Homo sapiens: one gene and its partners. The protein of the gene in region 2 interacts with the protein of the main gene of each other region in a pairwise test. Each region holds a gene or a part of one and is shown on either strand. Other genes may lie near its edges.

Region 1 (4,952 bases), on a different chromosome or scaffold from region 2:
GACGACCAGGGTGATGGGTTTCAATCTATAAAAAAAAATCTAAAGACCCAGGCTGGGCAACATGGCCAGACTCCATCTCTACAAAAATCCAAATATTAGCTGGGTGTGGTGGCGTGTGCCAATAGTCCCAGATACTTGGAGGGTGAGGTGGGAGGATCGCTTGAGCCCAGGAGGTCAAGGCTGCAGTGAGCCGTGATTGCACCACTGCACTCTAGTCTGGGTGAGACCCTGTTTCAAAAACAAATCTGAATTTGGGAGGCCGAGGCAGGAGGACTGCTTGAGCCCAGGAGTTTGAGACCAGCCTGGGCAGTACAGCAAGACCCCATCTCTACAAAAAAAGAGAAAAAATTAGCCTCGGCCAGGCACAGTGGCTCACGCCTGCAATCCCAGCACTTTGGGAGGCCGAGGTGGGTGGATCATTTGAGGTCAGGAGTTCAAGACCAGCCTGGCCAACATGGTGAAACCCCATCTCTACTAAAAATACAAAAAAAAAAATTAGCCAGGTGGTAGTGGCACGTGCCTGTAATCCCAGCTACTTGGGAGGCTGAGGCAGGAGAATCACTGGGCCTGAGAGGTGGAGGTTGCAGTGAACCGAGATCATGCCACTGTATTCCAGTGTGGGTGACAGAGTGAGACCTTGTCTCAAAAAAAAAAAAAAAAAAAAAAAGAATAAGCCACATGTTGTGGCGCATGCCCCGGAGGTTGAGGCTGCGGTGAGCCATGTTCCTGCCAATGCACTCCAGCCTGGGCGACAGAGTGAGACCCTGTCTTAAAAAAAAAAAAAAAAAAAAAGGCCAGGCACAGTGGCTCATGCCTGTAGGATTACAGTCCCAGCACTTTGGAAGGATCACCTGAGGTCAGGAGCTCGAGACCACCCTGGCCAACATGGCGAAACCCTGTCTCTACTAAAAATACAAAAATTAGCCAGGTGTGATAGTACGTGCTTGTAATCCCAGCTACTCCGGATGCTGAGGCAGGAGAATTGCTAGAACCCGAGAGGCAGAGGCTGCAGTGAGCGAGATCGTGCCACTGCACTCCAGCCTGGGCAACAGAGCAAGACTCCATCTCAAAAACAACAACAAAAAACAACATGAAGAAGAGAAACTAGAGAGCCTGTGCCCCACAAGGCCACAAGGCAGAATTCCTTGGGCAGCAAAACGGAGCATCGGACCTGTGGTGAAAGCCACTCGGGAGACTGCCACAGGGGAAGACAACGGATCATCATCTGCATGCCTGTTCTCCATGTGTCCCCAGCTAGTTAATGATCAGATTTCCCGAATGCCCCCAGCGAGGAAGTGGGGGAGGGAGGAAAGCTGTTCCAGCCTGACCGAACACGTCACATTCTCATTCCCAGAGCTGCCTGTGATGATTCTAGTTAGTGGGAGTCTGTTCTGATGTCTTTCTGCTCCTGCACCATTGGGTAAGACGGAAAGCCTCAAATCCAGAGCTGCTCAGCTGAAGGCATGGCAGCCCTGGAGCCCTATAAAACCACTGGCAGCCCCAATGCCTCAGCACCTTTTTTTTTTTTTTGAGACAGAGTTTCGCTCTTGTTGCCCATGCTGGAATACAATGGCGCGATCTCAGCTCACTGCAACCTCCGTCTCTATCTGCTCCCGCCCGCCTCTGCTTTCCAAAGTGCTATAGGCGTGAGCCACAGCGCCTGGCCGCCTCAGCACATGTTTAAGTGTAGCCCAGTGGTTCTCAAACGGAGACAGTTTTGCCCCTGGGGCATCTGACAATGTCTGGAGTCATTTTAAATTGTCAGACTGGGCAATGGGGGTGCTACTGGCATCGTGGTGGAGGCCAGGGGTGCTGCAAACATAACACAGTGTGCACAATGGCCCCTAGGAGACGCCCAGCGCCGGCAGTGCTGTGCCAAAGCGCCACGGCCAGCTACACTGGATGCTGACTAAAGGCTATCTTAATATTTTGCAGTTAGATGGACACATTTCCCCCCAGATGTGAAATTCTATTCTCTATCTTCCCCATTGCTCTGTGTCTTTTTCTTTTTTTTGAGATGGAGTCTCTCTGTCGCCCAGGCTGGGGTGCAGTGGCGTGATCTCAACTCACCTCTGCCTTCCCGGTTCAAGCGATTCTCCCACCTCAGCTTCCCCAATAGCTGGGCTTACAGGCACCCGGCTAATTTTTGTATTTTTAGCAGAGATGGGGTTTCACCATGTTGGCCAGGCTGCTCTCCAACTCCTGACTGCAGGTGATCTACCCGCCTCAGCCTCCCAAAGTGCTGGAATTACAGGTGTAAGCCCCCACGCCTGGCCTTTCTTTTTCCTTTTTTTAAGACAAAGTCTCGCTCTCTGTAGCCCAGGCTGGAGTGTAATGGTGCAATCACGACTCACTACAGCCTCGACCTCCTGGGCTCAAGGGATCCTCGTGCCTCAGCCTTCCAAGTAGCTGGGATTACAGGCATGCACCACCATGCCTGACTACTTTATTTTTTGTAGAGACAGGTCTTGCTATGTTACCCTGGCTGGTCTCAAACTCCTGGGCTCTAGTGATCCTCCTGCCTTGGCCTCCCAAAGTGCTGGGATTACAGGCATGGGCCACCACGACCGGTCACGGTCTTTTCATAGGTAGGTATAAAGTTATATGTCCTCTGGTTCAGTCTTATAATTAAGTTAGGACATTCACTTATTTCACAAAATCCAAATAAGTTATTTTCAGGACTGTATGAAGGAGGTATGGCGTCTCATCAGAATCATTCACATATAATTCTAATTTAACATCAGGATGCAGACTGCTGTCCTTCCAGACTCCAGCATGACACTCCTGTGCAAACCTGGAGGGCCAAGCTGGGGCCTGCTCCCCGCTGACCAGCGCCCAGCACACACTGGGGAGAGGCGGCCCCTGCGTCGGCTACAGTGGCCTCACAGTGTCCTGAGAGCACACCAGAGCCCTCCTGACATCTGTGTAAATGCCTCATCAGCGTGCCCTTCCCAGGCATGGCCGAGTACGGTGCCCTGGCAGGGAGACTGTGTTACATGGTCTTTAGGCTTCTCTACATCTACCTGGTGACCCTTTGCCCTCTTGAAGAAGGAGGACGAGAAGCATTTAAAAAACAGTCTTTGGCCTCTTACCTACCCAATTCCCTGAGAAAAACAAACTTGAGCGATGTAGTGCTTTGAAATTTCACTGGCAGTGTAAAGTGTCCCTAACACCTCCAGCCACCTCAGAGTCACCAACACAGAGCCACTTCCTGCTAAGGACTCTCTCAAAGGAGGCTCCAAAAAATGTCCCAGACCATTCTCCTTCATATGCCCTGTGCTCCAGCCACCGAGCCTCCTTCAGGCTGCCTTCACTGGGACAAACCTCCTGGTGCCTCAGGACCTTGGCACGCCCTCTTCCCTTGCCTGGCTCATTCTCCTCTAGGAGGCCCTCGCTCCTGCAGTGCTCCCACCACACAGACCCTGTCCTCCTCCAGGGGCCCCATCCCACTCAGAGGGAAAGCGATGTCTGCTTTATGGAGGCCCCTACGCCCACCTGTCCCTGTCACCTCCCGCCACACCGGCCTCCTCACTGTCCCGAGAGCTCCCGCTCTTCCATCTTCCAAGCTGCTCTTTCCTCAGCTCCTTCAAAGCCCTGCTCACTGTTCCTGGGCAGAAAGGGCTTCCCCCTCCCTAGGCTGAGCCTGGGGCTGCCAGCCACTCCCCGCTGTGTCTTCGTCCTGGAATTGCCCACACGGGCCAAATGCGGTCGCCTGCGCCCCCATCTGGAAGGCGGGCTCCATTTGGGGCCCCCCGCTCTGTCCTCAGCACAGTCTGGCCCTGTGGGACCACCTTATGTCTCTGTAGCGAGACATAAGCTCTAAAAGTGCAGGGTTCGTGTCGCGGCCACACACCAAGCACTCAGCAGAGACCGGACGCGTACCCAGTACGTGACAAACACTGGCAGAGTGAATGAATGTGAGAACCAGGCGTGCAGATCTAACGGTGAGCTTAGGGTATGAAAAGCCAGCTGGATGACTGAGGTGAGCGTATACACAGAGGCAATTCTGCAAAACCTTACAGGCTCAGAGACTTAACGTTCTGGAAGGAACCCTGGAAGCCAGTTAGTTCCAGCTCATTATTCCTCATGGCCATAAGAGAAATCTTCATTATGTCTCGACAGGCGCGGCGGATGGGCACATCTGGAAACATCCAGAAAGCTTGCCTGTTCATAGCCGTAGGGCCGCTGCTGCTGGGCAGACGGCGCTGTCTGCGGTGCTCGGTAGCTTCCGTACTGCTGGCCTTGGCCTTGCTGGTAGCCGGGGTACTGTGACGGGGCTCCCTGGGCAGACCCTGAGAAGACACCAGGAACCGTGAGGCCGGCCAAAACGGACACCTCTTTCTTTTTTTTTCTTAACTTAAAAATTTTTTTTAAAACTTCCTCTTCTCCTTGAAAAATTCCCGTCTCAATGCATCAGCCTTTTGTCAATCTCCAGAACACCTGGCACCTGCACGTGGCTCCACGTTAACTCTGTACAGCGAGAGCACCACGTAACCGACTCACCAGCCCCTCCAGTCCTGTGAGGTCCCAGGACTGTGCCCCAGGCCCCCCACCAGCATGGCGAGGGCTGATGGGCTCTCTCCATCACCCCAGAACTGCTGCTACCTGAAGGCAGGACAGCCCTCCAGAACCCGCTGGCCCCAGTCACACTGGCTGCTGTAACTTGTCACTGAACTACCACGGGAGCTGCTGAAAACCTGCAGGCAGGTGAGACAGAGACATCGTCTCTAGGAAGGCTAAGTCAAAGGCTCCGGCAAGAACTGATAGAGGCCAATTTTTTTTTTTTTTTTTAGGCAGGGTGTCACTCTGTCACCCAAGCCAGGCTGGAGTGCAGTGGCGTGATCTTGGCTCACCGCAACCTCCACCTCCCAGGCTCAAGTGATTCTCCTGCCTCAGCCTCCCAAGTAGCTGGGACCACAGGAGTGTGCCACCATGCCTGGCTAATTTTTGTA
Region 2 (4,952 bases):
AATGGGCAGCTCACTGCAACCTCCATCTCCTGGGTTCAGGTGATTCTCCTGCCTCAGCCTCCTGAGTAGCTAGGTTTACAGGCATCCACCACCACCATGCCCAGCTAATTTTTTGTATTTTCGGTAGAGACTGGGTTTCACCATGTTGGCCAGGCTGGTCTCAAACTCCTGACCTCAAGTGATCCATCCACTTTGGCCTCCCAAAGTGCTGGGATTACAGGTGTGAGTCACTGTGCCCGGCCTACTCTTATTCTTTACTTTTGAATATATTTGAAATTTCCCATAACAAAAGTTAATTTTTTATTTTTTAGATATCTATAAGATGATGTCTGCCCAAGTTCAAAGTACAATGAAATTCAGAATATAGGTCAAGAGCAGTGTTTATATAACACTTTAGGAACTACGATTATGTCAAAATTAATCTGGTTACAAAAGACCACATACTGCATGATTCCATTTATATGAAATGTCCAGAACAGGCAAATCTCTAGAGAAAGAAAATAGATTAGTGGTTGCCTGGGGTTGGGGGAAGAAAAGGAGGAGATAAAGAGTGATTTGCCAACGGGTACAAAGTTTCTGATGAAAACACCTTTTTTTTTTTTTTTTTTTTGAGACAGGGTCTCCCTCTGTTGCCCAGGCTGAAGTGCAGCGGCACAATCTCAGCTCACTGCAACCTCTGCCTCCTGGGTTCAAACGATTCTCCCACCTCAAATGAAAACACTTTAAAACTGATTGTGGTGATGGATGGAGAACTCTGATATAATAAAACCCATTGTATTGTACACTTTAAATAGGTGAAATGTATGGCATGTAAATTACATATCAATAAAGCATTTTTTTTTTTTTAGCATTTTTTGAAAAACTAATTTGGTGGCCGGGCGTGGTGGCTCACACCTGTAATCCCAGCACTTTGGGAAGCTGAGGCAGGTGGATTGCTTGAGCTCAGAGTTTGAGACCAGCCTGGGCAACATGGTGAAACCCCGTCTCTACAAAATATACAAAAATTAGTCAGGTGTGGTGGCACATGCCTGTAATCCCAGCTACTTGGGAGGCTGAAGCACGAGAATCGCTTGAACCTGGGAGACGGAGGTTGCAGTGAGCTGAGGTTGTGCCACTGCACTCCAGCCTGGGCAACAGAGCGAGACTCTGTCTCAAAAAATAAATAAATTTTAAAAAGTAATGTAATTTGGTGCTTAATAAATGTTTTACAATAAGATAAAGAACTCTCAAATTATATTTTTTCTTTTTTTTTTTTGAGACAGTTTCACTCTTGTCACCCAGGCTGGAGTGCAGTGGCGTGATCTCGGCTCACTGCAACCTCCATCTCCTGGGTTCAAGCAATTCTCCTGCCTCAGCCTCCCGAGTAGCTGGGATTACAGGCACGTGCCACAATACCCGGCTAATTTTTTTTGTATTTTTAGTAGAGATGGGGTTTCACCACGTTGGTCAGGCTGGTCTCGAACTCCTGACCTCAGGTGATCCACCCGACTCAGCCTCCCAAAGTGCTGGGATTACAGGCGTGAGCCACCGCACCTGGCCAAATTATATTTTTTCATATGTGAATCCTAATTGGCATTTTCCTTCATCTACTTCCCAATTAATTCTATCTGATCACTTCTTTATTCTATGTCATATCACTCCTCTTTTTTTTGAGACAGGGTCTTGTTCTGTTGCTCAGGCTGGAGCGCAGTAGCATGACCACAGCTCGCCGCAGCCTCAACCTCCCAGTCTCAGTTGATCCTCCTGCTTCAGCCTCCCAAGTAGCTGGACTACTGACCCGCACCACCACACCCAGCTAATTTTCTCAGTCTTTGTAGAGATGGGGATCTTACTGTGTTGCCCAGCTGGTCTTGAACTCCTGGGCTCAAGTGATCCTCACACCTTGGCTTCTCAAAGTGCTGGTATTACAGGTGTGAGCCACTGCACCCAGCCTGTCATGTCACTTCTTAAGGACTCAGTTTTTAAACCAAGGACTCTAACAAAAATAAAGACTAGTTTGATTTTACTTTTTTTTTTTAAGAGATAGGGTCTCACTGTGTTGCCCAGGCTGGAGGAGAGTGGCTGTTCACAGGCATGTGCTCATAGCACACTACAGCCTGAAGCTCCTGGCCTCAAGTGATTTTCCTGCCTCAGTCTCCCAAGTAGCTGGGGTTACAGGCATGAGTCATCATGCTCCGCTTGATTTGATAAATATATTGAGAATAGATTGACTACTAGATAGATTTTTAAAAATTTGTTTCTTTACACTACTAGACAAAAAAATTAATGGTCAGTAAGTACTCTTTCATACTGTTTTCAGAAGTATAGTCTTCTTCAAAGCTAACTGGCCAGTATGTATCAATATTTTTTTTAAGTTTATAACATTCAAATTAGTCAGGTATGGTAGTGCATGCCTGTAGTCCCAACTACTCAAGGGGCTGAGGTGGGAGGATCTCTTGAGCCAAGAAGGTCAAGGCTACAGTGAGCTGTGATCATGTCACTGCACTCCAGCCAAGACAACAACATGAGACCCTGTCTCAAAAATGAAAAAAAAAAAGTTTATAACATTCAACTAGTTATTAGTCTTCTAAAAGGTTATTCTAAGGAGCTCATGAGAAACGTGACCACTTAAGTGCAAAGATATTCAACACAGTACTATGTTATTAAAAATTACAAGTAAGCCAGGAGCGGTGGCTCACCTTATAGTCACTTCTCACTTTATAGTCCCAGCACTTTGGGAGGCTGACGCAGGCGGATTACTTGAGGCCAGGAGTTCGAGACCAGCCTGGCCAACATGGTGAAACCCCTTCTCTACTAAAAATACAAAAAATTAGCCAGGCTTGGTGGCACACGCCTATGGTTCCAGCTACTCGGGAGGCTGAGGCAGAAGAATTGCTTGAACCCGGGAGGCGGAGGTTGCAGTGAGCCAAGGTTGTGCAACTGTACTCCAGCCTGGATGACAGAGCGAGACTGCCTCAAAAAAAAAAAAAAAATTGTAAGTAACCTAAATATTCAACAATAGTAGGATGGTTGAAGAAATAAATTACAGTACATTCATATGAAACACTTTATAACCATTAAAGGTAGTTTTTACAGCAAATGCTCACAGATATAACATGAGAAAGTCATGATACTAAACTGTATACATATAGTGTAAAGGATACTGCTTTTTGCAAAAACAAAACTATATAGTACATGTGTATAAAAATGAAAACCAAAGGTAAGCTTATGAAAACATTAAGAGTGAGATTATCAGTGATTTTTGATACTTTATGTATTTTCAAACTACCTGCAATGAAAAATGTTGCTATTTTGGGTAATACAAATTTTTTTTTGTTTTTGGTTTTGAGATAGAGTCTTGGTCTGTCGCCCAGGTTAGAATGCAGTGGCACAATCTCAGTTCACTGCAACCTCCACCTCCTGGGTTCAAGCAATTCTCCTGCCATCAGCCCCCCAAATAGCTGGGATTACAGGTGCCCGCCACCATGCCCAGCTAATTTTTTGTATTTATAATAGAGACAGGGTCTCACCATGTTGGCCAGGCTGGTCTTGAACTCCTGACCTTGGGTGATCCACCTGCCTCGGCCTCCCAAAATGCTGGGATCACAGGTGTGGGCCACCGTGCCCAGCTAATTTTTTTGTGTGTATTTTTAGTAGAGACGGGGTTTCATCATGTTAGCCAGGATGGTCTCAATCTCCTGACCTCATGATCCGCCCACCTCCGCCTCCCAAGTGCTGGGATTACAGGCATGAGCCACCATGCCTGGCCTTATTATTCTTAAAATAATTACTTGTGGCCTGGCACGGTGGCTCACGTGTATAATCCCTGCACTTTGGGAGGCCAAGGCGAGTGGATCACTTGAGGTTAGGGCTTCGAGATGAGCCTGGCCAACATGGTGAACCCCATCTCTACTAAAAATATAAAAATTAGCTGGGCGTGGTGGCACACACCTGTAATCCCAGCTACTCGGGAGGCTGAGGCAGGAGAAGTGGCCTGAACCCAGGAGGCAGAGGTTGCAGTGAGCTGAGATCACGTCACTGCACTCCAGCCTGGGCAACAGAGCGAGACTCTGTCTCAAAAAAAAAAAAAAATTATTTGTGTATTCTTGCTTCCTTAGATAGAAAGCTCACTGAGGCAGACTCCAGCTTTCCCTTATTCTTTAGATTCTTCCCATATCAACCAGTCCTATCAAAGACCACCTTAGTAAATGTTATTGTAAAATCTACATTAGGATACGGATCCTCAGAAATGTATCTTAATATCAAGTCTTAGGACAGGCACGGTGGCTCACACCTTTAATCCCAGCACTTTGGGAGGCTGAGGCGGGGGGATCACCTGAGGTCAGGAGTTCAAGACCAGCCTGGCCAACGTGGTGAAACCCTGTCTCTACTAAAAATACAAGAGTTAGCCAGGTGTGGTGGTGGACGCCTGTAATCTCAGCTACTTGGGAGGCTGAGGCAGGAGAATCACTTGAACCCGGGAGGCGGAGGTTGCAGTGAGCTGAGATCACGCCATTGCACTCCAGCCTGGGCAACAGGAGTGCAACTCTTCTCAGAAAAAAAAAAAAATGAATAAAAAATCAAATCTTATATTTATGTGGTATTCCCCTCAAAGGCTCTGGAGAACACAGTAAGTACTCAATAAACACTTACTCAACTGTAATTATATGTTGGTTGTCAGCATGCAAGGAACCTGCACCATTACAGAAACTGTCACAGCCAAGCTAAGGAAAAGTTCTCCAAGTTCAATTTCACAGAATCATACATGCCATTTTAGAGTTAGAACATATCTTTTTTTAAAAAAAAAGCCAGTTCTCTCATTTTACAGGTAAAACCTTGGCCCTGGGATATTAAGTGACTTGTCCAAATTTATACTGAGAGTTAATGTTGGAATCAGGAAAATAGTTCAGGCTTTGGAGTTAAGTGCATCAATGTAAGTTACAAACATTCTTCATGTCTTCAATTTCCAGAAC
Region 3 (4,952 bases), on a different chromosome or scaffold from region 2:
TTCCCCAGTCCCACCGTCCGGGGACCCGGCTCAGCCCCAGGAGCCATGGAGGATGCAGAAGAGCAGAAACAGCAGCACAGTCTCCTGGGAGCCGCATCCCCGCGCACATTGAGTGAGGAACCGACCCCGGCGCTTCTGAGGCTGCGCGGAAGAGTCAGACAGCCGCTTCGGGCACAAACTACTCCAGGGGGCGTTGTGGCACCACGATTTGATTCAACTTGCATTACCCTGGCATGAACATCACAGGGACAAGGGAGTCTGGGGTCCAGCATGTACAGGCAGCTGCACACACGCCGACCGCCACACAGACACTGTCCCGGGAAACGCCTGCCACTGACTGGGAAGGTCTGTCACATGCAGACTAGCTCCTAAGTCCAGCGACTCTGGGGAGGGGCCAAGACGTGGCAGGAGCCCACCCTGACGGCCTCACTCGCTGTCTGTGCACACGTGCACGAAGCTGGAGGGAGAAGGGCTGCATCTCCATAAACACCGAACCCCACATCCAGTAAAGCCTCTCCTACGGACAAGAAGCTCCTGAGCTGGTGAGGATCGGCGCGGCCCGGGGCGTTCTCTAGGTAGTGGGAGTAGCAGAACCACAGAAGCCAGCAGCCAAGCCCGTGCGGGGGTGAAAGAGGGACGGGGAGCCCAGTGCCACCCGTGGAGGCGCTCCTGACAGGGGCTCCACCCCAAGGTCATGGTGGGGCTGCGGTCGTCCCAGACTCCAGGACCAGAAGGGGCTCTGGTTTGAATCCAAGCTCACGGCCTTCAGGGGCTGCAGAGAATTCTAAGCCTGAGGGCTCACAACTGCACCTGCTGAACTCCCTTTACACCAAAAAGGGCCAGGGAGGGGACAGTTTGGCAGGGAGGTGGCGTGGTGGGGTGGAGGCTGGAGTCGGCACGGTTTGTTTAATTCTAGTTCTCTTGCTGTGAACGAATCATGCCACCTCTGAGCCTCGGTTCCCTGATCTCAAACGGGAAAGACGAATATGTAACCAAGCTGGAATTGCTGTGATGGCATGGCTGCTGTGACCTGGAGGGAAACTGCTGGCAAGACCACACCCCCCAACCCCCATCCACACACCCCACACCTCCACACCTCCTCACACCCTACACCTCCATACACCCCACACAGCTCCACACACCCCACACCTCCACACACCTCACACCTCCACACACCACACACAGCTCCACACACCCACCTCCACACACCTCACACCCCACCTCACACACCCCACACTTCTACACACCCTACACACCTCACCCCTCCACACACCTCACACCTCCATACACCCCACACACCCACCTCCATACACCCCACACCTCCACACACACTCCACACACACTCCACACCTCCATACACCCCACACCTCCACACACCCCACACACCCTCACCTCCACACACCCCACACACCCTCACCTCTACACACCCCACACACCCCACACCTCCACACACCCATACAGACTGCCCGAACCCAAATCCTGTCACGGTGGCGAGAACGCCAGACCAGAACGATGGCCCCCAGCTCAGGGTCGCCCTCCGTGTGGCTGGAATGCCCTACTCAGGCTGAGGGGGGCCTTTTCCTTTGGAAAAGCCTGCCAACTCCAGAGCCATCTCCGGGTGAGCCTGGGCCTCGCCTCTGCCCAGCCCTGGTGAGGCCGGGCACAGCATCCCACCCCCGCCCACCCACCCCAGCCCTTGCAGCTTTTCAGAGCAGAAGGGAGCTTTCCATTAGCCACGTGTCTCAGAAGGGGCCAGCCAGGCGACCCACCAAGAGCGTGTCCTTCCCAGGTAAACCCGAGTGCCACAGAAGGTTGCCAGCCCGGGCTGCCAACGAGTCTGGCTCCTCCCCCAGGGCAGGGGAAGGGCAGGGCGTGCAGAGCCCTGGGCTGGGGGCAGGAGCTCGAGGCCCACCCCTCCCTGAGCCCACCTCCTCGCCTGTGGGCTGGAGGTCGGACACGATCGGAAGCCACCCTTGCCGCATGCCAGGCGCTTCGAGTATTTCCTAGACCTCGCCAAGCCCCTCTGCTAAGCGGAGGCTCCGAGAGGACCTGCTGAGATGACACAGACACTGAGGGCCAGCAGGGCCACGGCCACCCTCCCTGCCCGCCACCACGCCCACTCAAGAGCGTCTGGACTGGCCACAGTCCACACTTCCACAGCCCAGGGGTGGAAGCAGGGCCAGCACCCGCTTGGGAAAGGTTCAGAACTTGACCATCACAGGCTGCTCCGAGCAGGTCTTGCTGTAACTCCCTGGACCTGCTGTGGTCCTAAAGCCCCTTCTTCTGTGGCCATGCAACGAGCAGGGCAGGGGTCACCGAGGGACCCCTCTCAAGCAGCCCACGTGGCGGCCACACAGGGCTGGGGGTCAGGGCAGCAGACCTGGGCAGCAGACCTGGGCCGCTGTCTGGGGGCCTTTCCCGAGACACGTGCTGGCCCTGGCGGAAGGGACGGTTGTCCCCGCATCCTGAGCCGGGCGCCGCCTCTCACCCACAACTTGTTGCTTACAAAAATCACAAAGTCCTCAAGAACAAGCCCCCTCATGCCAGCTGTGACTGGAGGAGAGGAGCTGAACTCTGGGGCTGCGGTGGAAAGTCAGCTTCCAGGGGCCGCCTCTGCTGCCGAGCGGGGGCAGGGAGAAGGGCCACTGAGCCCCTTCCCCCAGGAGTCAGGGAGCAGAGAGAAGGAAGAGGGTCTGTGCAGAAGAGTCAGAGGCAGCGAGGCCGGAAGGAGGCTTAGCAAAGGCCAGAGAGCTTTTGGGAACAAGAACTACCTTTCACGGACATTTTCCTCAATCTCTTAACTGAGCCGTGACTTTTGGAAGCCAGACGGGAGGCGGGAGGGCTGGTGGGCTGGGGTGCGCGGCTAAGACACACAGGGAGTCCAATGGCTGACATCAGAACACTCGTCATGCCTGCACGGGTGTGAGAGCAGACACGCAGAGAGGGAGAGACATTAGAAGACTCCTTCGGCATGTGACGCCAACAAACCCTGCTCAGGCCAAGGATGTGACACCATCAATGGCCACGGGGACGCACAGGTCTCCCTGGGGACTACCCAGGCCAGGAATCAGAGGGTGGGGCAGCCTGGCTCATGGTAGCCCTGGCCCCAGAGCCCACAGGTTTCTATAGGAGCAACAGACAAGCCCGTGCCCTCAGTGTGCAGGTGGGCACCGGGGCAGGACCCGTGACTTCAGGAGAGCAGAGGGCGGAGGACGCCACTCCAGGAAGCCGCCCGGGGCACGGGGTCTCCTGGGTGGGGCTGGCTCCAAGGGCTCAGCTTCCCCAGGAGGCCCTGGGCCCTCCTGGCTTGGAGTTACTAGGCCTCCAGCCTCCACTGGGTGCTGTGTGTGCTCCATGCCCCTCCTGGCTGATCTGGGTGCCAGGGCCTTCAGCGACAGCGCTGGGGTAGGCGGGCAGGAACGTGGCCCCTGGGCCTGCTCCCACACTGCAGCATCCCCATACTGTGAGGGCTGGGCTGCAGCAAGGCCCCAGGCTGTGGCTCTGGCGCCCTCGGGCAAGGGTGGGCCTGTGGCCAGCAGCTATGCTGGGACAGACCGGCCACTCTTTCCAGAGCTCACCACTGCCGGATGCCTGCAGGGAACCCCACACTTGCCCTGGGGGACTCTCCTCTGACACTGCTTCCTTCGTGCTCCCTGATGACCCAGCGCTTCCTGGGACACAGCGTGTCCTGCTGGACGAACCCGTTCCTGCCACACCCTCGGCCTACCCCACTTTCCATAGTGCCAGCTCCCCGGTCCTCCCTGTCATCGGTCAGTTAGGTCAAAAGCACCTCCTCTCCAGAGAAAGGGGAAGCCTAGAGCTTCTTAGCCATCTCTTAAGGTGGCTTCCAGGGTCTGCAGAACCTGGCTCAGGAGCTGGGCACAGCCGGCTGCCGGGGGAGTTGGTAGAAATCCCAGTCCTCCTGGACCCCACTCCCCATCCAGGAACAGATGGCGTGACTCAGGGGTGAAGGGCGGCCAGGCCAGCCACTGCGCCCCCACTAGAAGAACAAAGCTTCTCAACCCGGCACATGTGCCTGGCTGTGGGGACAGAAGCGGAGACCAGCCACCAGCCTGGGCAGCAGAGCCGAGGTGGGCAGGGTGAGTTGCAGTGGCCCTCAGCAGGAGACACCAAAGCGTGCATCAGAGGACAGAGGTTTGAGCCCGGGAGCTCAATGCCCCCAACATCCCAAGCTTGTTCCTGGGCTCAAATGCGGTTCCTGTGGGAACTGAATGTCGGGTGGAGAGAAGGACAAGCGGGCGCGGGTGGCAGAGAGATGAGAGAGGACAAGGACAGGTGCAGTTTTCCTCAAGAGAATCTGGTGCCTCTGCGCTGCCCACGTCGTCTGGGAGGACCAAAGGCCAGGACACGTCTCCCTACCCAGGGTTCTCCGGCAACACTGCCTCAGCGGGCAGGCCTTCCCTGAACACTGCCTGACGGGGCCTGTCCCTCCAAGCCTCCCGCCCCACCCTGCTGGACTCCTGCTTTGCACTCCCCTCTGTTTCTATGGACTGTCTTCCCTCAGCACGAGTTCCACGAGGTCCCACCCGTAGCTGCATCTCCAGCACCCCGCTGGGGCAGTGCCTGATCCCTGGGAAGCCTGCAGCCCTCTGTGTTTGCTGAGGAATGAAGACATCCTTGGGCCACCACCAGCCCCCAGGAGGCCGCATGAGTGACACACGTGTCCTTTTCAATGCAGGACCCACTCCCCTGAATTCAAGTCACAAACACACAAGTTTCAACCCAGAAGCCTGGAGAGGAGGAGGGCTAGGGACAGCCCCCCAAACTCCTGACAGCCCCCAAAACACCTGAATAACTCGGAGGGCCACAGCCTTTTTCTCCACCCATCTGGGAGGATTCCCGCTGTCAGAGCCCTGAAGAGTGAAGCCCCCACTCACTGATTCTCACTTCCAATTTGCAGACACCCCTCCTTCTGACACCCAGGGCCAGGG
Region 4 (4,952 bases), on a different chromosome or scaffold from region 2:
GAGCTCCACCTCCTGTCAGATCAGCAGGGGCATTAGATTCGCACAGGAGCGTGAACCCTATTGTGAACTGCACATGTGAGGGATCTAGGTGGGGTACTCCTCATGAGAATCTAATGCCTGATGATCTGTCACTGTCTCCAACACCCCCAGATGGGACTGTCTAGTTGCAAGAAAACAAACTCAGGGCTCCCACTGATTCTACATTATGGTGAGTTATATAATTATTTCATTATGTATTACAATGTAATACTAGTAGAAATAAAGTGCACAATAAATGTAACGCGCTTGAATCATCCCAAAACCAGCCCCCGACTCTGATCTGTGAAAATATTTTCTTCCACAAAACCAGTCCCTGGTGCCAAAAAGGTTGGGGACCACTGATTTAAAATACAGAATGGATTCCAACATAATAAATACACACACACACACACACACACACACACACACACAATTTTTTTTTTGAAACGGAGTTTTGCTCTTGTTGCCCAGGCTGGAGTGCAATCTCGGCTCACTGCAACCTCCACCTCCAGGATTCGAGCTATTCTCCTGCCTCAGCTTCCAGAGTAGCTGGGGTTACAGGCACTCACCACCACGCCTGGCTAATTTTTTCTATTTTTAGTAGAGACGGGGTTTCACCATGTTGGCCAGGCTGGTCTCAAACTCCTAACCTCAAGTGATTCGCCCACCTTGGCCTCCCAAAATGCTGGGGTTACAGGCATGAGCCACTGCGCCTGGCCCCAAAGTAATAAATATTATCAAAACAATTTTACTATGATCCAAGAACAACAACAACAAAAGGAATGAGATGGGGGGAAGACTTTTTTTTTAATCTGAAAAGATTTTACTTAATCAAATTGTGTAATAGATTTTTCCATTCCCTAGCCCTAGTATTTTTATAGCAAGGAACTGCCCTTCTTTTTAAAGCCCCAAAGGTACGTATATAATACAGTGAGTTTGACAGATGTACAGAACAGTGTAACCACCGCAATTTGAAGCTATTTCTTAATTTGTCTTGAGATCACGGAGCAATAAGATAGAGATTCCACTTAAGTCCCTGGATATGATAGGGGACAATGGTTAGAGAGAAGGGTGACTAAACGTAACCTGTTAGGAGAACAAATGTCAGCAGCTCTCCCCTCAATAGTCAACCTGATCAGTCTTTGCAATCAGAGAGAGGGAGGCTTTTGCTGCTAGGCCACACTGAGTACACAGTACTAAAACCAAGGAAAAAAATATAATCTTAGGTGAAAGTAATGTAACAAACAATAAATAATTGTGCTCGTGATAGGATTATACTTAGGCCAATTCTTTTTGCCTTGAAGTTGAAAGGGGCCTGCTACTCTGCTACCGAGAGCTATCAAGATATCTAGGCAAAAATATTATGAAAAAACATTAACAGCAAGCTAAATTTTGACATACCGTTCTCTGCTATCCAATTTATACCAGATTTCATAGCTACCAGCCACATGTGGCTACTTAAATTTAAATGAATTAAAATTAAATAAAATTTAAAAATCAATTTCTCATTTGCACTAGCCAAATCTCAAGCGCTCAATAGCTATATATGGGTGGTAGCTACTATACTGAACAGCACAGATATAGAACATGTCCCTCCTGCACAAAGTGCTATTGGATAGTGCTGATATAGACCTATCAACAGCTATCAAGTCTGCTAGCTAAACTGGCAAATTAAGAAGACATACAAATATAATTCTTTGAAAAAGATGACCAGGCAAAATTATAATCTCAAGCTGAAAACCAAAAAACATATGGTTCCAATTTCAAATAGACTTTTCCTGAACCTGATTTCAAACCTGGATATCATTTAAATTTCTCAAGTAGTTTAAGAAGTAATCTAGCCCATTTAATTCTATTCGGAATTAAATTTTATGGAAAATGCAATACATTAGATAACACATCTATCAAACTTATTTACTTGAGAAAAACTCAAGGAAAAGGAGAGAAATGAAATCAACTTAGACTGAATGTCAGATGAGTCTTCCAATCCAGTTTTACCAGCCAACTACTTTGTTTTGATTTCAATAAATTTTGCATGAGATGCTTAGTAAGTCTAGAGTAATAAAAATTCTTAAAGTGTTGGTGAACTCACCTCTAAATCAGTTCCTGCCAGAGTTGCTCCTCTGAGGTTACAGTTCTTCAACTTTGCATTTTTTAAGGTAGCCACTCTCAGGTTAATTCCTGTCATCTGACTTCCTTCCATATCCACACCTTTCAGATTAGCACCTACAGTGAACACATTCTGGGAGTAGTTTAACTTAAAAATATAGTTATCTACCTTCAACAGAACTGCAAGATGACTTAATGGAGGCCTCTTTTAACTTTTGGAAATTAATCTAAAATCTTGTCTCTCAACGAACTTATATATATAAACAGTTTACTGATGAAAGAATGCTTTCACAATACTTTTGAGGGAAGAAATTTAGTTCTGTCTTATGATAGTTAGCACTTTCATAATATGCCTCTACAGGTTTATGATAAGGGAGTGAAGTAGTCTCCTAAATATACAAGTAAACAAAGTGATCAGTCACAGATAGTAACAAATTAAGAAACAATACATTAAATCTAAAAATGATTTTTAAAAACTCCCTGGCTTTATGCAAATGAAATTTTTCCTTTTGGTCAGTGTAAGAATATTTTATTCCATTTGAAAGTTTAAGATGTTGATATTTAATTTTCCAACTAAAACCTTATTAAATATTTGAGGTTTTATTTTTTCTGAGTCCTCAATTTTGATTAGCATTTGACTGAAACCAAATGGAGGTTTCTTACCACTTTGGAAGTTCTCCAAATATGATGACAGAAGAAACCTATCCCCTACAGCTATCCTGTTTCACCCTTAACAATTATTTTCCAGGGCTTTTTTCCTTTACAGTCTGCTTCCTTCGTAGAATAGGTATTTACAGAAAGGATCTCACCTTCTAAATTGGCTTTAAGACCAGAAGGATCCTCAAAATTACACAGTTTCAGGGATGCTCCTTCTGCATTAGAACAGAGCATCTTGACTCCCTGGAGATTCGCACACTGCAAAGAAAAGAGAAAAGTCCTGGTTGTAAGGTTCATAATTTTGTTCAAATTAGCTCAAACAGTAAAAGAAAAAAAATAGAAAAGAGGGAAAGGCTCAACTCAAAACACTCATACTCAATTTTATTTTCTGTTTACAATAAAGGCTTTTCTAATTAAATACAGTAAGAACTGGGAACATTTGAAAGAAAAATTTTTTTAAAGAACTGTTTTTTAAAAAATAAATGCAAATTAACAATAGCATGCTCATTTTACATGAAACATAACGGTTTAGATAAAGAAGTTGGGTGAGTCAGAACTCTGACACCTCTATCTCTATTTTTATAAACATACCTATGCATGACAATGAAACAGTCAAAATGTATGGGTAAGGAAGGCATAGACTTGTTAGGGGTATGGATTTTCTTATTACTGTAGGAATCTTGATGTTCTAAGTGAAATTCTTGATATTCTAAGATGCTACTACTGCCCTCAAGTCAGAGGTCAGAATACAAAAGCCAGCATTTAAAGGCATTATTTAGCTAGAAAACACTAACAAGATGCTGGCTGGGTCTTTCTGCACCAACCATGGCTAAACATTATTAACCCTGAGCAGGCACATCACAATGCATAATGCAGGGCAGAGAGTAAAATGGTAGAAAATATATGTTTTAAGACTTTATTTTTTTGTTTTGTTTTGTTTGAGACAAAGTCTCACTCCGTCACCCAGGATGGAGTGCAGTGGTGCTGTCTCAGCTCACTGCAATCTCTGCCTCCCAAGTTCAAGTGATTCTCGTGCCTCAGCCTCCTGAGTAGCTTGAATTACAGGCATGCACCACCACGCCTGGCTAATTTTTGTATTTTTAGTAGAGACGGGGTTTCGCCATGTTGGCTAAGATGGTCTTGACCTCAAGTGATCTGCCTGCCTCTGCTCCCCAAAGTGCTGGGTTTACAGGCATGATCCACCACACGCAGCCAAGAGTTTTAAATTATGTTCATTTATCTCAAAGCGTTTTTGACAAACATCTTTTTTTTTTTGTCCTTAACACAAACAAAGATGCCTCTCGACATTTCACTATTTAAAGATTAGGTCCTTCAAACGTTTTTTTGATGTTAGTCTTTTTCCTGTTTTGCTACTAACCTGACCCTTCATGATAAGACAGAATAAAGGACAGTGAAAGTAACTAAAATGCATATTTGGTAGATTTTGTTACTCGCCCTGATACACAGCTTCATGGAAAAATAAGCTGCAGCTAATGAGTAAAACCCAAATTAGAGTAATTCAATAAATGACTACCAAAAGCAAGATGGTATTAATTCAAAAGACATACAGACACGGGCCTTGGTGGTAAGGAACTTAAAGTTGTTAAAAATTAATAGATTTCATTGTTGGTCTGCATATATCCTCTAACTTCAAATAAACACAGATAACTGTTATAAATACATACATATACATATATATAAATATACACATATATGTAGAGAGAGGGAAAACGCCACTGAGATGTTAACTTCCACAAACTGATGCATACCATGTTTATTTCAAAATATCTGTCAAATACTTCTTGAGCAGTAACATTTTCCCATTCCAGAAATGAGGCTGAATAGATTTCAAGGTTCCTTTCAGCTTTACCTTTACAATTAGCTGAAAATATGAGTCCTGATAAATAAAGTACAGTATATTGAGGAGATCAAGAACTAATTCCAAGATTTAATTTCTTATTAGTTACTAAACCTTTCAAGTCTATGTTTAATAAAGGATATCAAACCTGTAAAACCAAATTCATTTCACTTTCAGACCTTTAGTCTTATATCAACATAATAAATTATCTGTTTTCAAGTAAAAGCTCCAGTAAAAGATAGTTATAATTCCTGTCTCAAAGGCTCTTTGAGACTGTTCAATAGACTAAACATTTAATTTTCTCTTGTAG

What was found. Proteins that work in one complex are often made in the same cells at the same time.
Region 1: the proteins of USP54 (region 2) and SS18L1 interact in binary tests that used the Homo sapiens proteins (3 or more experiments, as listed by UniProt).
Region 3: the proteins of USP54 (region 2) and DTX2 interact in binary tests that used the Homo sapiens proteins (3 or more experiments, as listed by UniProt).
Region 4: the proteins of USP54 (region 2) and KCTD9 interact in binary tests that used the Homo sapiens proteins (3 or more experiments, as listed by UniProt).

The regions. Positions count from the first base shown.
Region 1 is NC_000020.11:62,173,857-62,178,808, reverse strand, and holds part of SS18L1 (calcium-responsive transactivator), read right to left. Parts: intron 4,293-4,952; coding exon 4,165-4,292; coding exon of another isoform or gene 4,078-4,164; exon of another isoform or gene 2,491-4,077; intron 1-2,490. UniProt on the Homo sapiens protein: Transcriptional activator which is required for calcium-dependent dendritic growth and branching in cortical neurons. Recruits CREB-binding protein (CREBBP) to nuclear bodies.
Region 2 is NC_000010.11:73,510,507-73,515,458, forward strand, and holds part of USP54 (ubiquitin carboxyl-terminal hydrolase 54), read right to left. Parts: intron 1-4,952.
Region 3 is NC_000007.14:76,495,297-76,500,248, reverse strand, and holds part of DTX2 (probable E3 ubiquitin-protein ligase DTX2), read right to left. Parts: intron 2,913-4,952; coding exon 2,772-2,912; intron 1-2,771. UniProt on the Homo sapiens protein: Regulator of Notch signaling, a signaling pathway involved in cell-cell communications that regulates a broad spectrum of cell-fate determinations.
Region 4 is NC_000008.11:25,430,394-25,435,345, forward strand, and holds part of KCTD9 (BTB/POZ domain-containing protein KCTD9), read right to left. Parts: intron 3,043-4,952; coding exon 2,937-3,042; intron 2,261-2,936; coding exon of another isoform or gene 2,245-2,260; coding exon 2,111-2,244; intron 1-2,110. UniProt on the Homo sapiens protein: Substrate-specific adapter of a BCR (BTB-CUL3-RBX1) E3 ubiquitin-protein ligase complex, which mediates the ubiquitination of target proteins, leading to their degradation by the proteasome.